2 separate regions of the Homo sapiens genome follow, and region 2 is linked to region 1. The links come from fine-mapping of genetic effects on gene expression. Tissue or cell type: lung. Region 1 holds a variant in brackets; the other region holds the start of a gene. All regions are shown on one strand. Distances are between the middles of the regions.

Evidence for each region.
Region 2: it holds the start of STK33, and the variant in region 1 is fine-mapped to the expression of STK33 in lung (GTEx, PIP 0.94).

What each region holds. Positions count from the first base shown.
Region 1 is chr11:8,506,104-8,509,016 of GRCh38, reverse strand. All of the region lies in intron 1 of STK33 (serine/threonine kinase 33), which reads left to right. Among named protein-coding and RNA genes, the nearest start is that of STK33, 87 kb to the left of the region's middle. The variant C/T (reference allele first, on the strand shown) is at 1,287.
Region 2 is chr11:8,592,554-8,595,466 of GRCh38, reverse strand. It overlaps STK33 (serine/threonine kinase 33), which reads left to right and starts at 1,239. Exons shown (of 16, transcript NM_001352389.2): 1 at 1,239-1,384. RefSeq lists a silencer at 1,417-1,676.

The DNA of each region.
Region 1 (2,913 bases):
AGCCTCCTGAGTAGCTGGGATTACAGGTGTGTGCCACCACACACAGCTAATTTTGTATTTCTAGTAGAGACGGGGTTCCTCTATGTTGGTCAGGCTGGTCTCGAACTCTCGATCTCAGGTGATCTGCTCACCTCGGCCTCCCAAAGTGCTGGGATTATAGGCTTGAGCCACTGAGCCCGGCCATGAGTGGCCTTTAGAATTGACTGAGACCTTGATGGTTATTCATTTCAAGCTCCTATTTAGGGAGAAACCCATTCTCCACATTTCCATTCTCCATTGTGTTAAAGTTAATTCCTCACATGTCCCGATTGAGGTTTTTCAATACCAGTTTGGTCAAACTTTGGATCATGACCATTAATGGGTAGTGAAATCAATTTAGTGGGATGAGGGGTGTTGTGACAAGAGTTTTTTAAAAGAGGAATAGAATAGACAAGAAGAAAAGGTAAGGCCAGGCACAATAGCTCATGCCTATAATCCAATGCTTTGGGAGGCCAAGGTGGGAGGATTGCTAGAGCCCAGGAGTTTGAGAATAGCCTGGGCAACATAGGGAGACTCCATCACTGCAATAAATTAAAAAATTCGCTGGCTGTGGTGGTGGTGGGCACCTGTAGTTCTAGCTACTGGGGAGGCTCAGGTAGTTGGATCACTTCAGCCTAGGAGTTCGAGGCTGCAGTGAACTATGATTGTGCAGCTACACTCCAGCCTGGGTGAAAGAGTGAGACCCTGTCTCAAAAAAAAAAAAAAAAAAAAGAATAGAAGGTAGAGTATTTGTTTCAGTATATACATGTATGTGTGTGTTGGGTCATAATGTAAAAACCTATTTGTTGGCTGGGCGTGGTGGTTCACACCTGTAATCCCAGCACTCTAGGAGGCCAAGGTGGGCAGATCACCTGAGGTCAGGAGTTTAAGACCAGCCTGGCTAACATGGTGAAAACCCGTCTCTACTAAAAATACAAAAATTAGCTGGGCATGATGGAGGGTGCCTGTAATCCCAGCTACTTGGGAAGCTGAGATGGAAGAATCGCTTGAACCTGGGAGGCAGAAGTTGCAGTGAGCCGAGATCGTGCCATTGCACTGCAACATGGGCGACAGAGTGAGACTCCATCTCAAAACAACAACAACTACAACAACAAAACAAAACAAAGTAAAAACAAGGTATTTGTTATTGTAGATCAGGTCAAAAGCTTTTGAGAAATACTCAACTAGACTGCACGATCCTTGTGATAGGAGTCGTATTATAGGTGCTCATTAAATGCTTGTGGAATTATTATATTTGCCTCAGTTGT[C/T]AGTTTGTATTAAAAAGTAGGGGCTTGTTTACCCAATCAATTTCTGATTGGACTTATGTGGAGACAGAGGTTTTTCATCAGGGGTGCCTTTAAGTGTACCCCCCCATCCCCCTTATTTAGTCTTCTTTAAGATAAATGGGTTTTAAGACATAGACATGCTCTATATTTCCTCCTTCCTCCTTCACCTTTACCACAGGAGTCATCAAAGACTCTTCGCTGGGTAGTGATTTAGACTTATTCCCTGTCTCATACCCCCTTACAATGTGCATTGAGTGTTTATAATTTATCAGGCAGCAGTATAAGTATTTTATATGTATTAACTCATTCACTCCTCATCATAAGCCTCTAGAAGGTGCTCTGTTATCTCCAATTTACTGATGAGTAAACTAAAACACAAATAGATTAAGTGGATTAAGATCACAGGCTTAGTAAGTGGCCAGAATTTGAACCTAGGCAATCTTTGGGTATCGTAGAAAGAACACAGCACTTATCAAGAGCAGTGAGCTAGGCTAGAGGGCTGGTTGGCTCAGGGAGTTTTGCTCAACCAAGGCTCTTTTTGGGGGCAAGGCTGCTAGAAGGCCTTGCGTCATCTTTTTTTGTATTTCAGATCCCTGAAATTAGGTAAATCTGGAAAATGGACTGAATTTTCATTTTTACTTAATATTTTGATGCTGTGTGGACAAAGCCTGAGATAAGTGACCACATGTCACTTAAGATAAATCCATATTTAGTTTGAAAAGCAATGATCAGAATTGGAAATCTGAAGTATAATCTACTGTATAGGATGCCCCATGGCTAGCATGTGAATAGACACTCAGAGTAAGCAGGGGAGAAAGGGATAATTTATTTATAAGCACACACATATGTATGTGCATATGTATGTGTGTGTATTTATATCAAATTAAAAAGGTAAAAGTGTGTATGTGGGTAAATGATGTTGACAAATATAAGAGGGAAAATGGCCATAAAGGAGCTTGTGGTAGGCAGAATAACGGCCCCCCAAAGGTGTCCACGTCCTAATTCCTGGAACCTGTAAAAATGTTACCCTAAATGGCAAAAGAGACATTGCAGAATTAATTAAGGTTAAGGATCTTCAAATGAGGGGATTTTTTTGCTGGATTATCCAGGTGGGCCCAATCTAATCACACGAGTCCTTAAAAAAATCGGAGAACCTTTCCCAGCTGTGGAGAATCAGCATGGAAACAGATTCTCTCCTAAAGCCTCCAGAAAGGAATGCAGCCCCGCTGACACCTTGATTTTAGCCCAGGGAGGCTGTTAGATTTCTAACTTACAGAACTGTAAGATACTGAATTTGTATTGTTTAAGCCACTGAGTTTGTGCTGATTTGTTACAGCAGCAATAGAAAATGAATATAGGGCTCTTTAGTACTGCCCAAATTATCAAAAAGAGAGTTTCTCTGAAGGTAAGTTTCCTTCCACCTCCTCAAAGAAGCTGAAACTGTTTAGCCTTGAGAAGACAAAGTTAGTAAGGGTAACTTAGCTCTGATCTTCACTATTTAAAAGGTTATCATATGGAAAAAAGATTAGATTATTATGTTGAGTTGGAAGAATTTTAGGACAAGAGTTGAATTTACGGAGATTGTGACAATTATAGCTATCAAAATTGG
Region 2 (2,913 bases), 86 kb before region 1:
AAATGGCATAGTGCTAAACATGACTTGGTTCATGCAATGTTGCCAACGGTGAAGACAAAATGGTACAAACATACAGTTTTTTGGTGGTCTGGTTTAATCCAGGGCAAAACGCAGTCCAGTGGTTGCTTTTGTTTTTAGAGGCAGGGCTGGCTATGTCGCCCAGGCTGGAACCTGTGAATATGTTACCTTATATGCAAAGGGCACTTTACAGATGTGATTAAGGACCTTAAGATGCGGGAGATTATCCTAGGAGATCTTTTTTAATCTCCTAGAGCCTGGTACCTAGTAGGACGTCATTATATGGTAGGTTTCTTGCAGCCCTTTGGTGGCCAGGTAGTTTTTAATTTTGTAGAGATGGGGGCCTCCCAGTGTTACCCAGGCTGGTCTTGAACTTCTGGGTTCTAGCAATCCTCCTGCCTTGGCCTCCCAAAGTGCTGAGATTATCGGTGTGAGCCACTGCGCCCGGCCTAGTCCAGTGGTTTGAAGTTTGAAGTTACCAGTCACCCATTATGACCATTTTGAGTTTTTTGATGAAAAGGACTGGATGAACTAGTTGCCAAATGTAGCCTCCCCCGAAGCAATACAATGAATCCACCTGCCGTATCAAGTTACTGGCTATCAATCAGCTAATTTTAGAGAACATCTGCCTCAAATAATTAGGCTAGTATTAGGAGAGTTGAATTTCTTCCCCACACTGCTAGAGAGTAGGACCCAGGACCACAGAAGCCATTCTTAGTTCAGGCCAGTAAATACATTAGCATACAGCTGGACCCTCTGTTGCATGGGGCAGGCATTCAGATGGTTCTCATAGGTTTGTAGCTAAAACATATCCCTGAGAATCGTCATTTGATCTGTCAGGAGTCTTCTCAGCCCCTGCGTGGGGACAAACACCCTCCCCCCAGCATTTTCCCGTCTTTTTAGGCCAGCTCCCCACTCACTGCAGTTCAAGGCTTGCAGCCCTTGCTCCAACTGGCTGGGGCTTGATGGGCTTGACTCCGAGTGAGAAGAGTGGCCTGAGCATCAATCACCTCAGTACTGTGATATTCCTGCTACAAAGCTTTATTTTACGTAACACGTGGCTGCTCCTCTGTGCCCCAGACGGGGTTTTAGGTCCTTCTCTAAGGCGAGCTGCCCTTGGGCGCGCCTGGGGCTGCACCTGGGTCACGTGGGCGCCGTTGTGCAGCCGGCACCTCCCGGCCAACCCCGCGGCTTGGAGAAGGGGCTTTGCACCCGCCGCCGCTGTTTGTCCTCGCGCGGCCCCCGTCCACTGCCCTGCGGTTGCTCTGCGGGCTGAAAAGTTTCTCCCGGTGCAGAATTCCGGGCTCAGCGACAGCCTGCGCCGAGTGTGCGCACCTGTCGGAGACCCGCCAGTCCGCCGGCCGCGGTGAGTGGTCCCTGGAGTCACTGGCTCAGGGCGGGCCCGCGGGATGGGGCGGGCGGCCCGGGGCGCAGCCGGCCAGGCCGTTGCTATGGCAACGCGGTGGAAAAACGGGCCTCTGGGTATCTCGCTGCCGGCCGGCTGGTAACCCCCCAGCGGAGGGACCGGGCCGAGCCCGCGGACCCCTCCGAGTGTCTCCTGGGGCCCAGCCGTTGGTACCCCATTTCCCCCGGGTCCGGTATTTGGGGTGGTCTCTGTCTGCCCCGGTTCATCTCCACCGTCTCACCTTCACCCCATCTTGGGACGTGAAACTTTTTGAAAGTTTAGAAGCGAACTTACTGTGGGGTAAGTGTGTGGGAAACATCCTTAGAAGTTCTGAAGTTGTGTTTCTTTTTTTTAAACTGCTAGAGCCTGGTACCTAGTGGGACCCCATTATATGGTAGGTTTCCTGTTGCCCTTAAGATAGTCTCTTGCACCTAGAGGCTGCACATAGGAGGTGAAAGGATGACATAAAGCAGCCCCGTACTGGCTCTGTGGACAGGTAATTTAAGAACTCTCCCTCAGCTTCCTAAATGTAGATTATAATTTCTCACAAGGTCGTGGGTTTCAGTGAACCTATATGTGAAGCTGTTTTGTGAACAGTACATGTGAAAAGCACTTGAGCGTTAGTAAGGGATATTTGCATGCTAAGAGTGGTCTGGTGCTCCCCGTCCCATATCACCAGCTAAGAAGGACCTTCTTTTTTGCCTGACCACCAAATGACTCCAATATCCAACCAGAAAATAGGATAGTCCTGCCTTGAAAGAGGGCTCTGTGAATGGAAAGGAACATCAACAAGTTTTGAACCCAAACTCTTTCCTTGTTCTCCAGGCCCGTGCCTTTAGACAGTGATGGATATGCAGATATATCGCGCATTTAAATTTTTAGCTCGTGTAAATCTCTGTTGCTATCTCAATGGGTCATACCAACCTCTAGTTTGCAAATCAGAAATCTTGGCCTCATCCTTGACACCTCGCACTTTCTTCCTTTCCATATCCAAACAATCATCAAGTTCTATTCATTTTATCTTCAAACCAAATCTCAAATCCATTTGAGTATCTCTGTCTCTGCTACTATTACCCTAGACCAATCTACCATGATCTGTTGTCCAGTAGTAGCCTCTTAACTAATCTAAAGGTATTTATCCTTTCCTTTCAATATTCCCATCCATTCTTTGCCCTGCAGCAGGAGTAGTATTTTCACAACTAAAATTTGATTATGCTACCCCCCAACCTCCTCTAGCTCAAAATCCATCATGGCTTCTCATTATTCTTAGAATAAAGACAAAACTCTTAATGTGGCCAAAAAGTTGGGTGACCATGTACATGACCATCCAGACCAAGATATTTTTGAGAGTTCGAGGCTGCAGTGAACTTGCCACTGCATTCCAGCCTGGGCAATGGAGTGAGACCCTGTCTCAAAAAAAAATAAAAAAACAGTTCCCAAAAATGAAATTATAGGGAGGTCAAAGGGCAGGAACATTGTGAATGCTCTCA